Regions from separate parts of the Homo sapiens genome. Here regions 1, 2, 3 and 4 are each linked to region 5. Evidence: fine-mapped expression QTL. A gene starts in region 5. Each other region holds a variant in brackets. All regions are shown on one strand. Distances are from middle to middle.

Evidence for each region.
Region 1: its variant is fine-mapped to the expression of HEXA in putamen (GTEx, PIP 0.98).
Region 2: its variant is fine-mapped to the expression of HEXA in whole blood (TOPMed, PIP 0.94).
Region 3: its variant is fine-mapped to the expression of HEXA in lung (TOPMed, PIP above 0.99).
Region 4: its variant is fine-mapped to the expression of HEXA in whole blood (TOPMed, PIP 0.94).

What each region holds. Positions count from the first base shown.
Region 1 is chr15:71,800,591-71,805,316 of GRCh38, reverse strand. No RefSeq gene overlaps it. Among named protein-coding and RNA genes, the nearest start is that of NR2E3, 7.6 kb to the left of the region's middle. RefSeq lists an enhancer at 483-552 and a silencer at 2,273-2,567. The variant C/T (reference allele first, on the strand shown) is at 2,580.
Region 2 is chr15:72,273,401-72,278,071 of GRCh38, reverse strand. No RefSeq gene overlaps it. Among named protein-coding and RNA genes, the nearest start is that of PARP6, 3.2 kb to the right of the region's middle. The variant T/A (reference allele first, on the strand shown) is at 2,540.
Region 3 is chr15:72,353,543-72,358,237 of GRCh38, reverse strand. HEXA (hexosaminidase subunit alpha) reads left to right here. Exons shown (of 14, transcript NM_000520.6): 2 at 1,621-1,713; 3 at 2,614-2,679; 4 at 4,501-4,547. Among named protein-coding and RNA genes, the nearest start is that of HEXA, 20 kb to the left of the region's middle. The variant T/C (reference allele first, on the strand shown) is at 3,138.
Region 4 is chr15:72,341,188-72,345,913 of GRCh38, reverse strand. HEXA (hexosaminidase subunit alpha) reads left to right here. Exons shown (of 14, transcript NM_000520.6): 13 at 364-468; 14 at 1,774-4,726. The coding sequence ends at 1,837. Among named protein-coding and RNA genes, the nearest start is that of CELF6, 23 kb to the right of the region's middle. RefSeq lists an enhancer at 3,057-3,556. The variant G/A (reference allele first, on the strand shown) is at 1,913.
Region 5 is chr15:72,373,446-72,378,171 of GRCh38, reverse strand. HEXA (hexosaminidase subunit alpha) reads left to right here and starts at 2,158. Exons shown (of 14, transcript NM_000520.6): 1 at 2,158-2,452. The coding sequence starts at 2,200. HEXA-AS1 (HEXA antisense RNA 1) reads right to left here and starts at 2,059. Exons shown (of 1, transcript NR_027262.1): 1 at 1-2,059. RefSeq lists enhancers at 1,399-1,448, 1,779-1,918, 1,810-2,366, 2,367-2,922.

The sequences.
Region 1 (4,726 bases), 570 kb after region 5:
TACAAAACAGACATGGATAGTTTGATTTCATGTGGCCCAGGGGAATTTCTGGCTGAAGATCATGGGATGCTTGTCTCCTTGGCAGGACCTAAATGAATCAATGGTTTTCTTTCTAGAGCAGGGAGTGGAAGGTGCAGGGCTCCGAGAGGCAGACACCAGCGGGAATGTTTCTCAATAAAGCTTCTTTCTTTTCTTTTCAAGATAACATTTAGAAATGATCAGATATTCCCCTGCACAGTTTTCCCAGCCCTTGACTAGTAAAGTCTTTTTCCCCTTGAACTCTTCTAAAGGTCTAAGCAGGGCTGGCGGGGGCCCTGCCCTGTCCTGGGACAGGCAGACAAAAAGCAGCCTGTCTGGAACATGCACCATCTGTTGCTCCACCCTGGGTCACCTCTTCCTCCTCTGTACCCGAGATGACTGACAGGAAAGACCTCCAGGTTAGCTTGGCTTGACTCCCAAGCACCATGCGAGGTGGCTGTCTCAGTTCTGTTGCAGAGCTGTCACCAGAGGCCACCGCAGACATTCTCCCCACAGGCAAATATTTCTGTTTCATTTGAATGTTTAATAATACACATGTATTACAGCTCTAACCTGGATAAAATACAGTTCTTTGTATTTTAAAAAAAGAGACTAATTTGAAATCAATATTACCTATACTAATAATGATAGGAAATATTTATAAAGAAATTCAGTCTTTATGTGTGAAAATGAGAAGCTCCCCATGCTTTCATTTTCTCTCCCTCTTCACCCAAGAGGAGGACCTAAATCTCTAGCGGCTGCTCTGGCCTGAGCCTCCGCTGCTTGGAACAGCTGCAGCCCCCAGTGCAGAGGCCGCCCGTCCACCTGCTGCACCAGGTGTAAACCCTTTAGTTGCTGGGCCATGGGCAGATCTGGAGACCCTGGGAGGGGCCAGAACACTGGGGGCAGGCTGGGGCAGGAAGCTATTTGAAAACCAGTATAGAACTATTTTTAAACGTTTAACAACAGGCACAACCACACCAGGGTACACTAGCTGACTGACCAGTTCATTTATGCTGGTGGTGAGGACACCATGGAGGAACAGCAGTCAGGGCTGTGTCCAAAAAGTTATCTGGCTCTCAGGCTCAGAGTATGCATTCTTTTTTCATTTTCTTTTCTTTTCTTTTTTTTTTTTTTGAGACAGGATTTCGGTCTGTCACCCAGGCTGGGGTGCAGTGTGGCGTGATCATGGCTCACTGCAGCCTCGACCTTCTGGGCCCAAGCAATCCTTCTGCCTCAACCTCCTGAGTAGGTGGGACCACAGGTGTGTGCCACCACACCCGGCTAATTTTTAATTTTTTTGTAGAGATGGGGGTCTCCCTATGTTGCTCAGGTTGGTCTCGAACCCCTGGGCTCAAGCGATCCTTCTGCGTTGGTCTCCAAAGTGCTGGGATTACAGGGCGTAAGTCAGTGTGCTTGGCCTAGAATTATAATCAAGATAAAATAAAGCTTTTTTGTCTTTTTAAAAGAGACGGGTTAATTTTTAAAAAATACGAGCTGTAATAATAATGGAAAATATTTATTAAGAAATTTTATGTGCCAGACACAGTTCTAAGCGTTTATATGTGTAAACTCATTTAATCCTCACGACAACACAATCAGATAAGCATTGTCATTATTATCCTTGTCTATAAGCAGGCGCCTGTAGTCCCAGCTACTCGGGAGGCTGAGGCAGGAGAATCACTTTAACCCAGGAGGCGGAGGTTGCAGTGAGCCAAAATCATGCCATTGCACTCCAGCCTGGGCAACAGAGCAAGACTCTGTCTCAGAAACAAACAAACAAAAAACAAAACAAAAACTTCTGTGGAAGTCGAATTATTTTGAAGATAAAATATTTAAAAACAATATATACAATTAGAATATATTAAGGGGTTATTAGTTTGTTATGACAATGGTATTGTGGATATGTTTAATTAAAAAATAATCCTGCTAGAGATATACTCTGAAGTATTTACAGAAGTGAGTCAATGTCTTGGATTTGCTTTTAAAGACTGTTTTTTTTTTTGTTGTTGTTTTTTTTTAATAAACGAATGAATGAAAAGAGGGAGTAGATGAACTGAGGACTGAAGGTGATAGTTATTGATATGGGTGATGGGTACATGGGTGTCATGGACCTTTTATCTCTAATTGCTTTTGTGATTGAAATGTTAGGTAATAAGTTTAAAATATGTATACACATACAAGCTGCCTACACGAACAATGAAACAACAGGTGCCACTGATGACTTTAGACGCTCTACAGGCTCCTCAGCTTGGACCCTCCCCACCCTACTCTGTCTCCACTGCCCATCTTCGCCTTGCCTTGCAGCTTTGGAGGCTCTAAACTGAACCAGGTGACGCGCGCGGCAGGAAACCCCCGGTGCTACTGGGGAACTGCCGGGCCAGTCGGTGGACCAGCGCCCCCTCCTGGAAGGACAAAAAGCGCAGCGAGAGGGGCCGGTGCCACCTTGCGCTTCCTCTGACCTCGAGTGCTGGCTCTCTCCTTCGCGCTTCTGGCTATACCCGGTTCTGGCTCGGCTCGGCCTGTTCTTTCCCTCTTTCTCCAACCGACTCCTCCTCACA[C/T]TTCAAGACCAGCTCCAAGGTCTCTCCTGAGAGCACGCACTCTATCATCGCTCCTCACATCCCAGGCCCTATCAGAAACAATCTTACGCCCTTTCTTTGCAGTCACCCGGCTCCTCCAATGTGCACAGAAGCTTTGTGAGACCAGGGTCTTGTCGATCTTGTTCAACGGCATGACACGTAGAAGGAGTCTGATAATTATTTGTTGACCGCCTGAGTGGACGTAAGCTTGCCCTAGTCCTGGCAGCCTGCGGCGGCTTCGGCTTTCTGCCCTGCCCGGGGCCCTGTGGGCATCTCTCGGGCATCCTCCCGGGACCGGGTCCCAGCAATTGCAGGTCCCAATGGTGTCCGGAGGCCCGGAGTTGGTTCTTTCCGGTGGGTTCTTTGTCTCGCTGGCTTCAAGAATGAAGCTGCGGACCTTCCCGGTGAGTGTTAAAGCTCTTAAAGGTGGCACAGACCCAAAGAGTGAGCAGCAGCAAGATTTACTGTGAAAAGCGAATGAACAAAGACTCCACTGCACCAAACTGGACTCCCACTGGTTACCAGGGCTGGCTGGGGTGGCCAGCTTTTATTCCCTAATTTGTCCCCGCCCATGTGCTGCTGATTGGTCCATTTTGCTGAGCACTGATTTGGTCCATTTTACAGTGTGCTGATTGGTCCATTTTACAGAGTACTGATTGGTCCATTTTATAGTGTGCTGATTGGGGCATTTTACAATCCTCTTGTAAGACAAAAAAGTTCTCCAAGTCCCCACCTGACCCAGAAGTCCAGCTGGCTTCACTTCTCATCAGCAGTCGCGGGGCCACACACCCTTATCCTATGAGGCCGTTTATTCTGCCATGAGAGGTGTAAAATGTGTTTTAATAAAAGGCATTTACCTGGCCAGGACCTAAACTGATTGAAGCAATAAGCTACTCGGAAGGGAATGCTATTGTCCTAGGGGGCTTTCCAGGCTGCCACAATGATGTTCCATTACCCAGAGAAGCAGCATCCCCCTGGCACAAGACAGTGGTTTCCAGGGCGTGATGACTGAAGGTGCTGGGAAGGGTGGGTCCTTCTGCAGTCTCTACCGGGACTCTCTCTGCTTTCATCTGTTTCATAGTTGGTCAAATTTTGTTTGAAGAAGTTTTTTTCTCTTCCTAAAGAGTGACAAGTGGGTAGCATTGAGCCTCAGGTATGAGACCGTGCGTATTAGCTGGGTGGGCTCGGCCAAGTCTCTTCACCTCTCTGGACTGTTACTATGAGGAAATCATGGAGCTAATAGTGGAGCTTCACGTCTGGGTGAAGGCAGAGGACCGAATCAGAGGACCTCTCAAGTTCTCTCAGATCTGATTTATTGTACCCAGAATCACAAAATAGCAGGTAGTTGGATCCACTTGGAATACCCTGAAAGGCCACAAGATGGAGGTGTTACTCCATGAGAAAAGTTTGGCCTGCTCTGCACTGTTCCATCCCCCAATTTGTAGCCTAAGAGACTTGAGAATTTCTTCTTTGGAATTGTAGCAAAGTAAACACTTCACCAATACGCACTTGCATCTTCAGGCAGAGGATTTAAGCTCTTACTAAAGAACCCCAGCGGTTCCCTATAGCGTTTCATGCACAACTTTTTTTTTTAAATCAAAGCACCAAAGAGGGGCTGAGCGACAGTCAGGAGACTATCTGACGCAGAGGTGGCATCCCCGCCCCCTGGGAGTATCACCCCATTGTGTCCTGATACACTGGCTCATGTGCGTCAGAGCTCCTGACATATCGCAAACACCCAGAAAACAGATGTTGAGTGGAGTGGATGCTGGATTTATTTTACTGAATCACGTACTTGGCATTAAAATATACGGTGTCCCCTACAGAGGGTTTTCCATGTTCCCATAGGAACTGTTGAGATTTTTTTTTTTTTTTTGAGACAGAGTCTCTCTCTGTCGCCCAGGCTGGAGTGCAATGGTGCAATCTCTGCTCACTGTAACCTCCACCTCCCGGGTTCAAGCAATTCTCCTGCCTCAGCCTCTCAAGTAGCTGGGATTACAGGCGCCTGCCACCACGCCTGGCTATTTTTTTGTATTTTTAGTAGAGACAGGGTTACACCGTGTTGGCCAGGATGGTCTCGATCTCCTGACCTCATGATCTGCCCGCCGCGGCTTCCCAAAGTGCTGGGA
Region 2 (4,671 bases), 100 kb after region 5:
TGGGATTACAGGTGTCTGCCACCATGCCCGGCTAATTTTTGTATTTTTAGTAGAGACGGGGTTTCACCATGTTGGCCAGGCTGGTCTCGAAGCCTAACCTCAAGTGATCCACCCGCCTTGGCCTCCCAAAGTGTTAGGATTACAAGCATGAGCCACTGGGCCCAGCCTATTGAAGGGTTTTAATAGAGGAGTGACATGATCAGATTTGAGTTTTAGAAAGATCCCCTAAGCAGCTAAGTGGAGAATAGATTGCAGGAGTAGATACTGGATAAGGAGTCTATTAGGAGGCGAATGCGATAGTTCTGGTAGGGAGGAATAGGAATATAAAGGAGGGATTGATTTAAGATGTATTAATTTGCTCGCACTTGTAATCCTAGCACTTTGGGAGGTCGAGGTGGGAGGATAACTTTAGGCCAGGAGTTTGAGACCAGCCTGGGCCACATATTGAGACCCTGTCTACTACTCCCCAGGAGGCTGAGGCTCATTCCACAGGCTTTTTAGTTTCTTGCATTTTCTGCTCAGCACCTAAGATATCCCTTGGGAAAAGCCAGACCCAGGCGTGTGGCCTGTTCTGCCTTCTGAGTCTCTGTGCTTTTAGGCAGCTAGAGGGCAGGAGGCCAGAGTTTGGAAAGAAAGAAAAAGAAGAAGAAGATGTATTAAGATGTAAAATTTAGAGTTTATGAGGTAAAATTGGTTCCATTTAAATAAGGATGGGAGAAGTCTAAGATGCTTTCTTCTCAGGGTTCAGTCTGAATAAGTCATAGGTGAGATTTACTAAGTTAGGAACATGAAAGAAATACAGTGAGAAGATGTTTGCCTATGTGACATCCAAGTGGAGCTGTCCAAAAGACAACTTGACCAAAGTTAACTTGAAACTCAAGAAGTACAGGATGGAAGCCAGGCGCGGTGGCTCACGCCTGTAATCCCAGCACTTTGGGAGGCCGAGGTGGGTGGATCACAAGGTCAAGAGATTGAGACCATCCTGGCCAATGTGGTGAAACCCCGTCTCTACTAAAAATACAAAAATTAGCCAGGCGTGGTGGCGTGCATCTGTAGTCTCAGCTACTCAGGAGGCTGAGGCAGGAGAATCGCTTGAACCTGGGAGGCAGAGGTTGCAGTGAGCCAAGATCACGCCACCACACTCCAGCCTGGCAACAGAGCGAGACTCCGTCAAAAAAAAAAAAAAAAGAAGAAGAAGTACAGGATGGAAATATAGATTTGGGAGTTCCAGTCTATAACTGTGTGTCACTCAGGTGGATTTAAATGAGACTTTTGTTGAAAGGGCACTAGGTGGGTCACGGGATTGCCAGGCAAAAGACCCAAGCTTGGAAAATAGGCAGGAACAATGAGAGGCCAGTCCACCACAGCACAGGCCAAATTCAGATGCCAGAACCAGCTCCACAAGACCACTGCTGCTGTCATCATTATTGGACATGGGATGTCACCACTACCAGTACCCACACCATGAAAGTCCCTGGGCATGGGGTAAAGCTGACCCTGCTCTCCTGTCACCATTGCCACTGGCATGAATTCTCTATGATTCTATTTCTCTGAGTCACTCCAGAAACTACATTTCTGGAAGATGCTTGGCCAGGCCAAGGTCACATGCCTCTGTCTTAGCTAGAGAGCTGGGAAAGCAAAGATTCAACCTTTTTAGTGTCTGTCATGAAAGATAGGCTCTGCTTACTTCTAAAACTTGTAACATAAGAAGGAGATTCTGTTTCTGGGCAACCCCAAATTATCAAGATCTCCTTCAAGTGGCCATGGAGGCCACAGGGAAGAGTAATAGGAGAAATGGATGTGGGCTGAACTGCTTTTCTACTTAAGTAGGGAATGAAGGAAAGGGAGTATAATAAGGATACTGTGAAGGAGTCATATGAGGTGTAGCAAGAAACTGGAAGAGTGTAGCCCATAAGAGCCAACAGAGGAAAGGGTTGCAGGGGCAGGATGATCAACAATGCCAAATGACACCATGCAGTCAACTGCAGGGGCAAGATGATTGACAATGCCAAATGACACCATGCAGTCAACTGCAGGGGCAAGATGATTGACAATGCCAAATGACACCATGCAGTCAACTGCAGGGGCAAGATGATTGACAATGCCAAATGACACCATGCAGTCAACTGCAGGGGCAAGATGATTGACAATGCCAAATGACACCATGCAGTCAACTGCAGGGGCAAGATGATTGACAATGCCAAATGACACTGTGTGGTCATATAAATGAAGCCTGAAAATTCCCAATGGATTTGTCCATTTGTAAGTCATGTGTCACTTTGGTGAAAGTATTTTCAGTAGAAATTTTGGGGAGAGGTCAGATGACACCAGATTTAAGGAACAACTGAAGACAAGAAAGTGGAGAGGGGGAGTATAGGCTACTCCTAGAAGTTTGGTTAAAGGCAAGAAAAATCAGTAGCATGGCATATAGGATTCAAATTGGATTTTCTTTTTACGGTTGGGCTAGTTGATCAAGCTTATATACTGAGATCAACGAGTAGGGGAGAGGAAAAAGTTGAATATAAATGAAAGAGAGAGG[T/A]AAGGAGCAAATTTCCCAAGGAGGCAAAAAGGAATGAAATACAGATCACAGTGAAAGGACTAACTTTGTATTTGAAGAGAGCCCTCTCCACTTCTGAAACAGAAAGGATGGGAGAGATTCAAATGTTTGGAGGGGACAGAAAATTGAGGCAGTTCCCCCGTGGCCTTTTATTTATTTATTTATTTTTAAAGAGATGGGGAGTCTCGCTCCATTGCTGAGGCTGGAGTGCAGTGGCATAACCACAGTTCACTGTAGCCTTGAACTCCTGGGCTCCAGAGATCCTCCTGCCTCAGCCACCCAAGTACCTGGCACCCAGAGCCTTTATTTTTTCTGTGAAGCAGAATGGGGGATGGTGGGAGAGGCTGACATGGGAAGGGTTGCTGGGTACACTGAGGACTCTGCTGAGGAGACAATGAATTTGTAGGAGCTCTGTACTGAGTGCACATTAAGTTAGCTTAAGCCATTTATTCTAGATAAAAACTGACTCCTAGTCCCTCAAGATCAGAGGGCCTCAGAAAGTGCCTTGGGCAGGGTATAGTGGCTCACACCTGTAATCCCAGTACTTTGGGAGGACAAGATGGAGGACTGCTTGGGCCCAGGAGTTCAAGATCAGCCTGGGCAACATAGGGAGACCCCATCTCTGCAAAAAAAAATTAATTAGCCAGATATGTTAGTGCATGCTTAAGCCTTGGAGGCTGCAGTAAGCTATGATCACACCACTGTACTCCAGCCTGAGTAACACAGTGAGACCCTGTCTCAAAAAAAAAAAAAAAAAAAAAAGAAGGAAGGAAGGGAGGGGTGCCTGGGAAGCTGCCAGAAAGCAGAGAGTAGTCTCACCATTTCTGGTCTCTGCCTCTCCATGCTTCATTCTGTGTCCCCAGATGGTCTTTTTCCTTTTCTCATTCATCATAGTAGGTGGGAGGTAGATGTACCATAGCTCCTAAGTCTATGTCTCTTTTGCTTAAGAAACCAGTCCAGTTAGAATCATAATCTGTCAGCTCTAATCCCAGATTTTCAGGAGAACATCTGTTTAACACAGCTTAGACCAGGAATCCACTCACAGTTCAATAAACTGCAGCTAAAGTGCTAGAGGTCACACAAGACGAACATGGCCCTGGGGCCTGTGGATCCATAGTGTGGGTGTGGAAACGATAATTCCCACAGAATAGGGTTCATGGGCTAGACTAACCTAAATGGTGTCCACTCACAAGCTTAAGTGTGCAGGATTGGATGACTTCCTTTATCCTGGTTTAGGATGGGAGAGTAGAGAAGGTAGATAGCTGGCATGACCCAGGAGTGTGATTTTTACAGAGTAAGTGCAAGCATATTAACAAAGATGTGATTAAAATGACTGACCAAGGATGTGGACTGGGTAGGAAAAGAGGTGAAGCCTGGAAGATACTGGTAAACTATGAGGTGGCTGAGATTCATGATGAATAGAAGAGCTAGTGGTGGTATGCTGGAAAGGGGGAATCCTAAAGGTTATTGAATACTGGAGTTGGACTTGTCACTCATGGGCACAGTGCTTATGTTCAAACACTCCCATACATACTTGGTTCTCAAAAGCTATTACGGGGCCCTTGATGGTGAGTTGTTTTAGAGAGCAGGCCTGACTCCTTCCCCTACCACTCTGAACTTCCGCACTCTGAAACCGAGGTTATATTGATCCCTCACTTTTTTCAGTTACTATAAGCAGTAGATGTAACAAACTCACACCGAGACGGTGTTGTGGCCCAGGCTGAGTGGCAAGGTGAGCAGAGGGGGACATCAAAAGGGGAAGGAGTTAGAAAGGAGAGGCTGAGAATGTGCAAATGTAAATCAACCAACAACAAAAAGTTAACTGGGAAACTTCTGAGGCCAGCTTAGGAGGGATAGACATGACGTGTTTATATCATTCAGGGCCAAAGCCTTCTTTGTGTGTACTGTGTCCAGCTACAAAGAGGGAGTGAGGAAACAGAGTAGGTCTAAGATAAGCCTTTTCCCATTAGTGTTGATGGAAAAGAGGGTCACGTGGAAGCCCCAAGACTAATAAGGATGAAGGAGATCTGGCCATGTCTAGGGTTAATAACCACAATAACCACAATTACAGCTTCCATGTATGAACTACTTCCTAGTCCCAAGTACTCTGCTGG
Region 3 (4,695 bases), 20 kb after region 5:
ACACAATGATATTGGGGCTCCATGATGTGTGGGGTTGGGAGTGGGGGCAAGAAGTCAGAGGATGGGGTATAGTTTTTCCTCACCCTTGCTCCTAGGTTAAGTCCTCATTGGTCTCCCTGTAGAGTCTCCTGTGGAGATGGGTTTGTAGCCTGTCTGCTTGGATGGCCCTGCAGATTCTGCCTTGAGTGTGGTCTTTGCCTTGAAGGTCTGCTTGTCCTTTTGTGTTGTAACAATGTAGTTTTAGGGTTCAAGTATGGAGCTGTGAATTGACCTGGCCCAGAGTTGCCTCAGATTCCCTCCTCTTTGCAGAATGTAGGCAGGTATTGGTGTGGGGATCCAGGGTATTTACTGGTAAGGGAAAGAATGTGTTGTTCATGATGGTAGGAAAGGCCCCCTTATTGGCTTGCTTCTTGGCAGACCAAAGAGCTGAGATACAGCCATGTGGTAGTGCTCAAGAGGTCTGAGCAGGCTTCCGTGAGATGATCTGAGCGCTTGGATTCCTTCTGCCTGGAGATGGGTAACATTTGAGATTCCAGTTTGGTTCTGAATTCTCTCATTGCCTTCTGCCAGGCCATCCTATCCCTGACATTGTAGTGCCATAAGAAGTCATGGATGTTGTGATGCCAGTGGGATGAATATGGCTCCAGGAAAGAATAGAATAGAGAGGGGTTCATTAAGTTAAGGCTTGGGGCTATAACACCAGAGCCACCCTGAAAATCACAGGGAAGAACCAGCAGGAGGGTGAGAAGAGACAGTGTATTCATATTTTGGCTTTGGCATTTTTTCTGCATAGACAAGGGTCTGTAAAGCTATATTAGATACTATGTTGGTTCAACCCTCCACTATTAGGGTAAAATCTACCTTGGATAGAGAACCTGTTTGGGAAGAGGAAGGAAGGAAGCAAGATGGGTGGGTGACCCTGATCTTCTCTGAGGTATCAGTTGCATCATCTCAGGCCTCCTCTGCCTGATCCTTCTGTCATCTGCTCCATTAGCTCCTAGGCTTTTGCAAAACTGGAAACCCTTCATCTGGAGCCCTCAAGAGCAGTACTACTTAATATGCCAATCTTCAATGAGATAAGAAGCATATGTACCAGAATGTAAGACTGATCTCTTCATCAAGAAAATCTTGTATGAAAAAATGTTAGAACTAGACAGTGTGTTTACTCTGACATAATTGATTTACATTCAGGCTTCATATAAGTTTTCTATATAGTGACCAGCCAGTAACACAGTTTGCAAATTGGCAGCTAATCTGCAGACCATACTTGGAGTAGCAGTGCTCTAGAGCTGCCTTTCATTCAGAAGCAGTTGTTGAGGTCATGGAGTTGTTTGTTTGGTACAGGCCAAGGGCAGTCAGAAATATAGAGCCCTGGTTAAGAAGAGCTGTCACCCAGAGCATTCAGACATGGGTCAGGGCAGCTACTGAGGAGAAGAGGGGCACAACGAGAGTGAGACAGCTGAACAGATGATCAGGCACTGCCTATGCCAAGGGTAAATGCCATGTCCTCCCTTTCCTTTACCACAGGCGTGTGAGCTGAGGGACTAGAGCTAGGGTCTTGGTTTTGCCTGTTGCTTCTAATGGCAGGTTGGCCGCACCAAGCTTACCCTGTCTTCCTAGGGAAACGGCATACACTGGAGAAGAATGTGTTGGTTGTCTCTGTAGTCACACCTGGATGTAACCAGCTTCCTACTTTGGAGTCAGTGGAGAATTGTAAGTACCATCCTGTTCCCTGTCTTAGAAGAGCAAACACTTGTCTGAAGCTGTAACTCTGGATGGCCTGGCCTAAACTGCTGATGCTCGGCCTGGAGTCCCCCTTGACCCTGGGGACCGAGGGTCACCAAGTGCTGAGAGCCATGGAAGATGAGTTTTTCCTATGCAGAAACTTAACCAGTGCTAAAGGTTGGCTGTGGAACATCACACTGGCTCTTCACTGAGTCCCACAGGACTTCTACCTGGTGTACTGAATACATTTCTATTTTAGGAAAGTGTATACTTTGCTACTTTTCTCTAATAGACCCTACACTGGGGAAAGCAGGGGTTCTGGTCACTTATACTGAGATGAAGTTAAGTCATTAGTCCAGTGACTGCCTCCTGTCTTCCCTGAGCAGCATTTGGGGACTTCTCAGTCTCCAAAGTGAACAGTTGAGTTTGGCTCCTTCCTCACATTCTTGGAGGAAGTAGCTGAAGCATAGAGGAAGGGGAAAGGAGGGTGATTACAAAGGCATTGGGAGCATCGCGTGCTGCACTCACCCCTGCAGGCATCCCTGTTCCCTTTGCCAGGAGAAGACTTCTTTCATCTTTCTGCTGTGGAAACTGACCCATGAGGTAGGTGGTGCTTTGTACAGACCTCCACTCCAGCCTGACTCTTGCTGTACATCATCATCCAGGGTCTACAGAGTCACTGTGGTGACCACCCTCCCACTCTGGCCCCAGACCAGGCCATCCTACAGCTGTCTTGCTCTGGGGACATCTCCTCATTGAAAGATTTTTTAAAATATATGGTCTTACTGTTTTTTTTTTTTAGTCCAGTGATTTATATAGAATATCTGGTCTATAATCTGAGAATAGAAAACCTTAACCAACTAAATGAGTTCATTTCTGTCATTTCAGATACCCTGACCATAAATGATGACCAGTGTTTACTCCTCTCTGAGACTGTCTGGGGAGCTCTCCGAGGTAACAAATTGGGGCTGATTAAAAGAGAGAGAGAAAGGATGATGTGGGAAGGTTGGTGTTGGTGGAGTGCAGTGGCCCAGTCCCTGCTCACTGCAACCTCTGCCTCCTAGGCTCAAGCAATCTTCCCTCTTTAGCCTCCCAAGTAGCTGGGATTACAGGTGCCTGCCACCATGCCCAGCTAATTCTTGTATTTTTAGTAGAGATGGGATTTCACCATATTGCCCAGGCCAGTCTTGAACTCCTGAGTTCAAGTGATCCACCCATCTCGGCCTCCCAAAGTTCTGGGATTACAGGTGTGTGCCACCGCGCCCAGCCAGGAAGCTTTTTTTATGGGAACAATTGGCGTGTTTTCCCGTCTCTGTGGAATTGTCCCTGGAAGTTGACAGGTTTTACCCTGTGCAGCATCAGCAACTGCTGCTGCCCTAGTCAGGGGCTCTGGGAAGCAGTAGGAGAGTCTG[T/C]GGGCTGATGTTCTAGGTGCCAGCAGGGGACAGGTAGCTGGGGGCAGGGGGAATGATGCTACCACAGACACTGTCTGTCCAGCTCTTGCTAAAGACATGTAATTGGAAAGGTTTTTTTAAAAGGAAAACTATAACAAAAGAAATAGATACATGCAAAAAAAAAGATAAATAGTAGTGAAATATTTAGAACTACATTATTTCTGGAGAAAATGAGTTTACTGGCTAAACTATTGGCCCTTGCCCTTCTTCTGGGTTTACTGAGAAGGCATTTGGTGCCTAGATACAGACTTAGCCAAATATCTCTCCCACTTTTGGTAAACCCTCTGCTGGTGAATGATGTGGGAAACTCTCTCGGAATTCCACACCTTGCTTTAGTTTGTCTTCATTCCCTTGCTCCACTTCTATGCTTGGAGCAACAGCATGCTGCCTCCCCTTCCTGCCCTCTTGTACCTTTCATGCAGGTGCTGATGGTGAGTCAGGCTAGAGGTAAGGGAGGACCTGGAACTCCAGAATGCTGGGTGTCAGAGTCAGAGTGGGGAGAAGCCAAAACAGTACACTAGCAGTCTGCTCAAATCAGGTGCTGAGTGACTGCTGAGGTCTCATGGATTCTTTCACTTTGAAACTGGGGACTCTGATAATTTTCATGGGGCTTCTGCAGGGTTTCCAGAAGAGGGGCCCCAGCTGTTGAGAACATACAATACTCTGGGTTCAACATACCTGTGTGTGGGCCTTGCTAGACTCTAGGAGACAGTGTCAGTGGACTAGGGGAGTCCTTCTGGGGCAGTTGCTGTCCACCACACCTCAGCTCCCTATAGCTGGGTCTCTTCTTAGACTCTGAAGAGGAAGAGTGGATGATTTTTTTTATCTTCTAGGTCCAGCCATGAACCCAGGCTCCTTGGAAACCCAAGCTTATGATCACTTTCTCACAATTTATTCTGGGACCCCTTTTCTCAGCTCTCTTAGCTCCTGATAGGGGTTATCCATGAAAAGTCCAACTCTTGCAGGCTGAGTTGTCTCTGTGTCTGTCCTCATGAGTATATGTCTTGGCCTCTCTTCTCAATATTCTTGTGAAGGCACAGGAAATATAGATAAGAGGTATGTGGGTTTTGAAGGTTAGTATGTTGTAAGGAAGGGCACTAAAACCCTTACTCTGACATCTCCCAAAATGAAATACAGAAGTAAAGATGGATAGTGGCTTCCTAATATCCCCTTTTCATCAGTGTTAAAAATCGTCAAGCCTACACTACATCCATTTTCCCTGTGTACCCAAATGTTATGCTCTGCTACATTGAGAACCTTCCAAATAGAGACATCTCTTTTTCCACTCCCTGAGTCTTTACTCTGCCTCTCTACATCTTCCTAGGTCTGGAGACTTTTAGCCAGCTTGTTTGGAAATCTGCTGAGGGCACAGTAAGTGTGGACCCTCAAAAAGGGCTCCTTTTTCATCTCTGGGGTTGGATCCCAATATTGAGAATCCTAGAAAAATCTTGTTTTGCCTTAGGATCCTGGTGGCTTGAGATAGCCCCAGTAGAAATGGAAGAGGAGATGTGAGTGGAAA
Region 4 (4,726 bases), 32 kb after region 5:
CCCTCTGCTGTTTTCACTGCAGCCTTACCAAGTATGGTTGGGTGTGCAAAGTTTACATTTTAAGGACCTCTGCTGCTGCCACTGTCATTGTGGTTAATGATGGCTTTAAGGTTTATTCTTATTCCCATATCTTTGAGAGAGGAAGAGAGTGGGATTGCTACCCACATTTTAATGAAGGTGGAGCTGAGCCGTAGAACTCTCTGGGAGCCATCCAACCTGGCTGTGGCTCATAACAAGGTATTGATCACTTCCTTTGGCCTGAGTGAGTCCAGGGTGCCTAGACAAGAGGTAGCAGCCTGTGGATGTCCAGCACCTTTGCAGGGAATACAGGGCCCAATCTGGCACATGCCCCTTTTCCTCCAGGCCCAGAGCAGGGGCTGTTGCCGAAAGGCTGTGGAGCAACAAGTTGACATCTGACCTGACATTTGCCTATGAACGTTTGTCACACTTCCGCTGTGAATTGCTGAGGTAAGCAAGCTGTGGGGCCTTCGCAAGGCGGAGCAGGCCAGATCCAGGGCTGGGGAACCCCTTAGAGAGAGGAAGACAATAATTAACAATAGCTAACACTTACAGAGGCTTATAGTCAGCCCTCATCCACGGATTCAACCAACTGCGATAAAAAGTATTCAGGAAAAAAAAAATACAACAAAAAATGGTACAAATAAAAAATACTGTATAACAACTATTTACATAGCATTTATATTGTATTAGGTATAAGTAATCTAAGATCATTTCAAGTATATGGGAAGTTGTACATTGGTTATATGCAAATACTATGTCATTTTTATATAAGGGACTTGAGCATCCTTGGATTTTGGTATCCACGGGGGTCCTGAAACAAATCCCCTGTGGATACTGAGGGACAACTGTATTTTGTGGCAAACACTGTGCTAAGTTTGTTACAAATATTGTCTCATTTAGTCTTCACCACAGCCCCATGAGACAGGTGCATTTTAGAGATAGACACTGAAGCACAGAGTTCAGGACCTTGCCCAAAGTCACTAAGAAGCAGGATTTGAACCAGGCTGACTTACAGGATGTCATGACACCTTTGCCTCTGTCAGGGATGTGCCTGTGTAAGATAGTCATTTCCCTGATTCCTTCGTTGGCTAGGTCTTGAGTACTTGGGGGACATAGCCTAGTGCAGAGCAGAGTCCTGGGCTGAGAGTCAAGCATGATGGTGTCTAAGCCTCAATTATGTCATTCACTGGGTAACTTCCAGCTGGTTCTCTAAGCATGTTGCTTACTTGGATGATAAGGGAAGCATGCCTAGAGGTCCCCTAAGGAGATTGGTCAGGTTATAGACTGAGACCCAAGGACAGGATTTCGCATCCATGTTCATGGACAGGACAGCACCTAAGTCCCCCAGTGCCACCATATTTACAGCATTTTAGAGTCAGGAACAGAGGGCTAAGTAGACCAAGAGCATTGGCTGCCTTTCAGACATCCATCTATATTCTAAAGGGATTGAGTTATTTGGGGTTAGGGTACAGAGATGGGCAGGATATAAATAGATGTCGCCAACGTTTCTGGATCTCCAAGACCTGTATCAGAATCACCTGAGGCACCTGTTCAGCTTGCAGATTCTTGCCAATACTTTGCCCCACCCCAGGTGAGAATCTCTGGAATTGAGATTCCCAGGTGCATTTGGTGTACAGTGACAGTTTGAGAGTCACCGAAATGGGGAAGGAGAGACTGTTGACTGGTGTGAAAAGTGTTGCTGGGGCCCCTTCTGAGGGGCTTATCTTGCCATTTCTTCATGTCCTCTTGCAGGCGAGGTGTCCAGGCCCAACCCCTCAATGTAGGCTTCTGTGAGCAGGAGTTTGAACAGACCTGAGCCCCAGGCACCGAGGAGGGTGCTGGCTGTAGGTGAATGGTAGTGGAGCCAGGCTTCCACTGCATCCTGGCCAGG[G/A]GACGGAGCCCCTTGCCTTCGTGCCCCTTGCCTGCGTGCCCCTGTGCTTGGAGAGAAAGGGGCCGGTGCTGGCGCTCGCATTCAATAAAGAGTAATGTGGCATTTTTCTATAATAAACATGGATTACCTGTGTTTAAAAAAAAAAGTGTGAATGGCGTTAGGGTAAGGGCACAGCCAGGCTGGAGTCAGTGTCTGCCCCTGAGGTCTTTTAAGTTGAGGGCTGGGAATGAAACCTATAGCCTTTGTGCTGTTCTGCCTTGCCTGTGAGCTATGTCACTCCCCTCCCACTCCTGACCATATTCCAGACACCTGCCCTAATCCTCAGCCTGCTCACTTCACTTCTGCATTATATCTCCAAGGCGTTGGTATATGGAAAAAGATGTAGGGGCTTGGAGGTGTTCTGGACAGTGGGGAGGGCTCCAGACCCAACCTGGTCACAGAAGAGCCTCTCCCCCATGCATACTCATCCACCTCCCTCCCCTAGAGCTATTCTCCTTTGGGTTTCTTGCTGCTTCAATTTTATACAACCATTATTTAAATATTATTAAACACATATTGTTCTCTAGGCACTGTGGTAGTGGGTTTTTTTGTTGTTTTTGTTTTTGAGACTGTCTCAAAAACTCTGTCGCCCAGGCTGACAGTGCAGTGGCACAATCTTGGCTCACTGCAGCCTCTGCCTCCTGGGTTCAAGCGATTCTCGTGCATCAGCCTCCTGAGTAACTGGAATTAATAGGCACGTGCCACCATGTCCATCTAATTCATATATATATATTTTTTTTTTCTGAGACGGAGTCTCACTGTCACACAGGCTGGAGTGCAGTGGCACGATCTCGACTCACTGCAAGCTCCACCTCCTGGGTTCACGCCATTCTCCTGCCTCAGCCTCCCCAGTAGCTGGGACTACAGGCGCCCGCCACCACGCCCGGCTAATTTTTTGTATTTTTAGTAGAGATGGGGTTTCTCCGTGTTAGCCAGGATGGTCTCGATCTCCTGACCTCGTGATCCGCCCGCCTTGGCCTCCCAAAGTGCTGGGATTACAGGCGTGAGCCACCGCGCCCGGCCGAATTCATCTATTTTTAGTAGAGATGGGGTTTCACTATATTGGCCAGGCTGGTCTTGAACTCATGACCTCAGATGTTCACTTGTCTTGGCCTCCCAAAGTGCTGGGATTAGAGGCGTGAGCCACCGCACGCGGGCCTGTGGTAAATTGTTGAATTTGAAGGACTCAGAGGCCCTGGTCAATTCCAAAATAACGTAGGCGACTTCCATCCCCCTCCTCCCAACCATTTTCAGCCCAAAGCATCTTCGCAGGGAATGGATGGCTGCGCGGAGGTGGGCGGTGGCTCTGGAGAGGGTCTTTGCAGGTGTGATTTTCTCTAGAAGGAAATGTCTCGTCGTGGACCCAGACTGCCCCCTCCTGGTTTCAGATGCAGAAGTGATACTGTAAGCCAGAGGCGGGGGCAGTAATGCATCGCAGCCATTTTAGGTGAGGATTTCCTTGGCGGTTATTTGTTAAGTTCTTTGGCTGGGCCCTGGGCTGGGGTAACAATGGACAGGTTCCAGGCATTTTTTTCAGAAAGCTTCCAGTGTAGTGGATACAGAAACTTCAGGAAGGCAGGGCTGAGAAGGATCTGAGTAAAACTCGGTCCTTCAACACCATCCTTCAGCCCCTGGGTCATGTTCCTTCGAGGTCCTGGTGGGAGGTAGACAAGCCTAGCCTTGTGCTGTTCCTGTAAGGACAGGGTGGGCATTTTCTACCAACAGAATTCTTGGAATTTTCACACAGCCCAGCCTAGCCAAGTCCAGGGCTATAGCCCAGATACACAAGTTAAGGTCCCAGCACTGGCACCCACCACAGGAGCCCCCTTACCTCTATTACCCAGAAGCTTGTAGGAGGGGTGGTCCGCAGACAAGGACCCTGCACAGGTGCGACCCTGCTTCCCTCCTGGTCATAACTTTCATGTTACTATTGCTTGGGATAATGTTAAGTAAAAATAGCAGACACTGAGTTTTAAGTCTCAAGTGGATGAAGGCAGAGATCGTGATACACTTGAGTTAAAGCAGTAGGGTTCTGTCATTTTCTATTCCTGTTGTAAACATTTTCTTTAATGTTATTATTTTTACCACTAAACTAACGTGGCCTGGTCACGACTTTCATTGGTAAAGTGTGCTGTTCCTCACCCTCCACCGTTGCTCCTTTGGTCCACTGATCATAAGAGCATTTACCTGAAGGTCGTCAGACCTCGAATGCCAACAGGTCAACTGCAGTGGCCTGCAGTTACCACCCAGTCTGTTCCAATGAACAGAATCGCTGTTGCCCCAACTCATCTCCCTTCACCTAGGCTGTAAATTGAAAGTCCCACCCCTGAGCGGAACACAGGCCATCTTGTGTGCTGTGCACCACCAGGGGGTGGGGAAGTTTCCAGACTGACTTCCTGGCTCCAGTCATCCTAGGAAAAGAGTTCTCCAGTCGCTCCCCACCCCCACCCCTTCCCATTCCAGGAGTCTATTAAGGAGGCAAAGCAGGCCTAACGGGTATCAAAGCAAAGGAGTGAATGGAGACTGGGAGAGTCTTCAACCTCTCCTCTCCTTGGTAGGAGCTGAGGCTGCATGCCAGGTACCTTCCCTTCGAGGAATCTAATAAAGCTAGGTCACTGGTGTTTTCAGGTGCTTCTCAAAGGATTGCCGTAGGGGTAGGATATCAGGATGTGGGAGCACAGGTGCCACCACAGCACTAGTGATGGAGAGTCATTGCCCCTAGACTTCTGGGACAGTGAGACTGTGAGGAAAGCTGAAATGATACTGGGAAAGGGT
Region 5 (4,726 bases):
AAATGGCTCTTTTCCTGGACCCTCTATTCCGTTCCATCTATTTGTCTGCCATTATGCCAAAACCCCACTCTAGTGTATAGTAAGGGGGGATATTTTGGAAGATCAACAAATTTATCTTGTGTAACTTACTTTTATGTATGCATAAGAATATTTGGTTTAAAAATCTGGTTAAGTCTAAAAGAGCTCTTTCAGTAATAATTAAATAACTGAATCCCTGTAATCCACCATGCTCAGCCCCATTAGTAATTTTTATAGCGTCTTTATTTGGATCTAGCTCTTTCATCTTGTGTAACTCTTTTAAGTAAATGACTCCTCCCTTCTGGTACAGGTTGAATATCCATAAAAGGGTGCCTTGGCATGTGCTCAGTCCTGAAATTCTACTTTGATCTACTGCTCTCATCTTTGAAACTGCTCTAAACACTCCCCCAAATTATTGATCCTGTGGGCCTGATTATGAACTTGGCTCTTCTGACAATACTTCTCAAATCCTGTACCTTTGGTAACATCTCTCCTGACTGGCAGAGTACCCAGACACTTAATTAATGCTGATGAAAATTAAGATTTAAGCAAAGAAGAAATTGGTGTAAGAATGCAAGCCTTAGGATCTGAAACTTGATGACTGTGGGATCTAATTTCTGCTTCTTTTGCTACAAGCTCTGTTTTTGAATAATCAACTTTCAAAGACAAATTGCTTGATGAATCTCTGTATTGTCAGAATGTTTCTTTGATTTCCCATCAAAGCCATGTATGTGTAACTAGTAATTAGGTACCTACGACCTGAATATAAATTATCATTATTTCAGTAGCCCTTTATTTGTTTTTGAGAAAGGGTTTCACTATACTGCCCAGGCTAAACTTGAACTCCTTGGTTCAAGTGATCCTGCCGCCTCAGCCTCCTGAATAGCTGGGAGTAGCTGGGACTACAGGGATGTGTTATCATGCCCAGTGAAAGCCCTTTATTTTTAAAAGTTCATTTTCCTGATCTTTACATGTATTTTAATACTAAAATTAAATTTAAAAATTTTAAAAAGTACCTACTAACCAAATAATGCCACCCAATAACAATAGCATTATTTGTATTATGTTCTGGTAATATAGTGGTGAACAAGGAAGACAGGGTCTCTGATAACTGTGGAATTCTCCTTGATCACTTCTCAAGCCTCTCTTCCGGATACTATTTCTTGGATCTACAGCTGTCTTCCTTCCCCACTTCTGTAGTTCAGTCTCTCATTATTCTCTACCTCCAATAAAAAGGGGCCTCCTAACTGGTTTCTTATGCAACTACTCAACATGGTATTTCTAAAATGCAGATCTTTCGGGATGATTTTCAATTGCTCAGAGAATAAATTCCTTGACTTTCTACGTAAGGCCCTGCAGGACCAGGCCCCTGTCATTATCTCTGAGCACTCTCCATCTTGCACCCAAAGCCCCAGCAATATCTTACTGCTTTCAGTAAATACACACCGGGCTATGTGGGGTTTTGTCTGGGGAAAGGGGATGTGAGTTGTAACTAAGAGATTTATAGTCAATCTTGAAGGGAAGAGCTCATATTGGAGGCAATGGAATGCCTCAAGCTGGCTCTGAAAGTACACATTTTTTCCAGTCATAAGTAGATCACATTTGTGTGATCTTGTGATCCTCTCTCTAGCAGAGCCGTGCAGACTACCTACTTCCGGCCCTTTCTTGCCCCACGAAATTTCACATCACAACGACTTGTGGTTTTAATCCTCCGTTTTTCTGCTTCTGAAGTTACTTCAGCCTGGCAAGTCCTTTACCTCCCCGTAGGCCTGGCGAGCTGCATCACAACATTCAAGATTCACCCTAGAGCCATCTGGGAAACTTTCTTCTCCAGGTCGCCCTGCGTCCTCGCCTCCCCACCCCGTTCTTCTCGAGTCGGGTGAGCTGTCTAGTTCCATCACGGCCGGCACGGCCGCAGGGGTGGCCGGTTATTTACTGCTCTACTGGGCCCGTGAACAGTCTGGCGAGCCGAGCAGTTGCCGACGCCCGGCACAATCCGCTGCACGTAGCAGGAGCCTCAGGTCCAGGCCGGAAGTGAAAGGGCAGGGTGTGGGTCCTCCTGGGGTCGCAGGCGCAGAGCCGCCTCTGGTCACGTGATTCGCCGATAAGTCACGGGGGCGCCGCTCACCTGACCAGGGTCTCACGTGGCCAGCCCCCTCCGAGAGGGGAGACCAGCGGGCCATGACAAGCTCCAGGCTTTGGTTTTCGCTGCTGCTGGCGGCAGCGTTCGCAGGACGGGCGACGGCCCTCTGGCCCTGGCCTCAGAACTTCCAAACCTCCGACCAGCGCTACGTCCTTTACCCGAACAACTTTCAATTCCAGTACGATGTCAGCTCGGCCGCGCAGCCCGGCTGCTCAGTCCTCGACGAGGCCTTCCAGCGCTATCGTGACCTGCTTTTCGGTTCCGGGTCTTGGCCCCGTCCTTACCTCACAGGTGAGTCGGACTTGTCCCGCCCTGTTCCTGGGCCCTGAGAGTGCCTGCCTGGGGACAGTTCCCCCAGGGCTCCAGAGACGCCCTATGGGCTTTTGTCCAGCCCTCTGATCACAGGCACTCCACTTCCTCCTCGAGCTGCATTAGGTTTTCATCCAAAGATAACTACTATAGGACTACGGTTCAATCAGGAGATTAATTTATGGAAAATACTGTGCCAGCAGAAATCTAAGGTGATCCTTCTGACCGTGTTCAAGCTAGCCAGGGTCCTAGTGAGACTGTGAGCAAGGGCTGAGTAGAGACCAGAGAAAACACTCAAAATTGGGGAGACATAATACAAGAACTATGCAAAGTTACATACAAGTTTCTGGCACATAGAATGTTTGGCGGGCGGATCACGAGGTCAGGAGTTCGAGACCAGCCCGGCCAACATAGTGAAACCCCGTCTCTACCAAAAACACAAAAAATTAGCCAGGCGTGGCGGCGCGCGCCTGTAGTCCCAGCTACTCGGGATGCTGAGGCAGGAGAATCGGTTGAACCCATGAGGTGGAGGTTGTGGTGAGCTGAGATCGCGCCACTGCACTCCAGCCTGGGCAACAGAGCAAGACTCCCTCTCAGAAAAACAACCCCCCCCCCCAAACAAAACAAAACAAAACAAAAAAAGTGTAAATTGTGAAAGAAATCATAGAACATAAGGAAGTGAGTTTCCAGCGGCCACTTGGAATGGGATGGTAGATGTAATTAGCCGGGACTGAAAAGAGGGTATTCCAGGCAGGAAGAAGGGCTTGAGCAGAGGCACAAAGAATTATGATTGAGTTCAAAGTTCAGGTCTAGTGGATGTGATGAGTGGGGGCTGGGGATTGAGGAGGGATGAGGGTGGGGAAAATGTGGGGTTGAAGAGTCAAGAGCGCTTTAGACATTGGTTTCACATAAAATGGAAGGGGCTAACAGTTTTCTTTTAGGCAGCTATGTAATCAGTACTGAAAATTGTATTTGAGGATAATTATTCCACAGCACATTTGTAAGTCGAGCCAACAATGTAAAGGAATACAATTCTGCTGCATGGGTTCAAAATTTAGAAGTTTCTTGATAATCTGGAATCTAGCTCTTTGGTTATATTGTATAGATGTTATGGGGGTGGGAGCCACATTTACGGTTAAGTCTTGTAGTAATATTTTATATGATGTTTCAAGTGTGTTTAAATTACTTTCACAAAAGTTATCATTTGATATATAGAATTAAAAGCATTTAATTATACAGATGACCCTTAGAGAGTGACATTTGATTTGGGGAAAGAAACACAATCTCAGCATCAGGGTAGTCCTTAACTGGTAAAATGCATTAAGCTGGAGAGGATAAGAGGCCTGCTGTTGAGTGTGGTAGATCACATTTTCCTCTGAATCCTTCATGACAAATAATAGAGTGCCTTACCCAAGATTGGCACTCAGAATATGTTGATTTTGGTTTAGAAGAGTTTGAGCCTGGTTTATGGAAAAAAAAATCCGTCTAACTGGTATATGTCAATCCCAGTGCTGGGCACTCTGAAGGTTACAAGAAAAGTCTTAAGACCTAGGCCTAGGCTCTATAGTTCAATTGCGAAAATATGAAACAGAGGGAGGTACACAGTGAATTATAAGATTCTCAAAAGCTTTATAGGTTGTTTCCTACTATTGTATACATGAGAATAATTCCTTTCCTTTTTTTTTTTTTTTTTGAGACGGAGTCTCGCTTTATCACTCAGCCTACACTGAGGCTGAGTGCAGTGATACGATCTTGGCTCACTGCAGCCTCCGCCTCCTGGGTTCAAGCGATTCTCCTGCCTCAGCCTCCCGAGTAGGTGGGACTACACGTGCTTGCCACCACGCCCAGCTAATTTTTGTATTTTTAGTAGAGATGGGGTTTCACCATGTTGGCCAGGCTGGTCTCAAACTCCTGGCCTCAAGTGATCCACCCACCTCAGCCTCCCAAAGTGCTGAGATTACAGGCATGAGCCACCGCGCCATACCTAATTCCTATACTTCTAAATTAGGCCTTCACCTCCATTGCTATAGCACCATAGTTTAATCAAGTAGATAGAAATGGAGAGATTGTAAGATAATGGAATACTATAAATTCCCTAACAAAAGAGATTTAGAGCCAGATAAATTCAATAAGATGTTTATTTCCATATATTACCTTCCTGTAAGTTCATTAGCTTTATTAGTTGAGGGTTCTTGTCCATTGAGAGAAAATGAAAACTGGGTTGGGTGAACATTACCAAAGACTTAAAAGTAACTT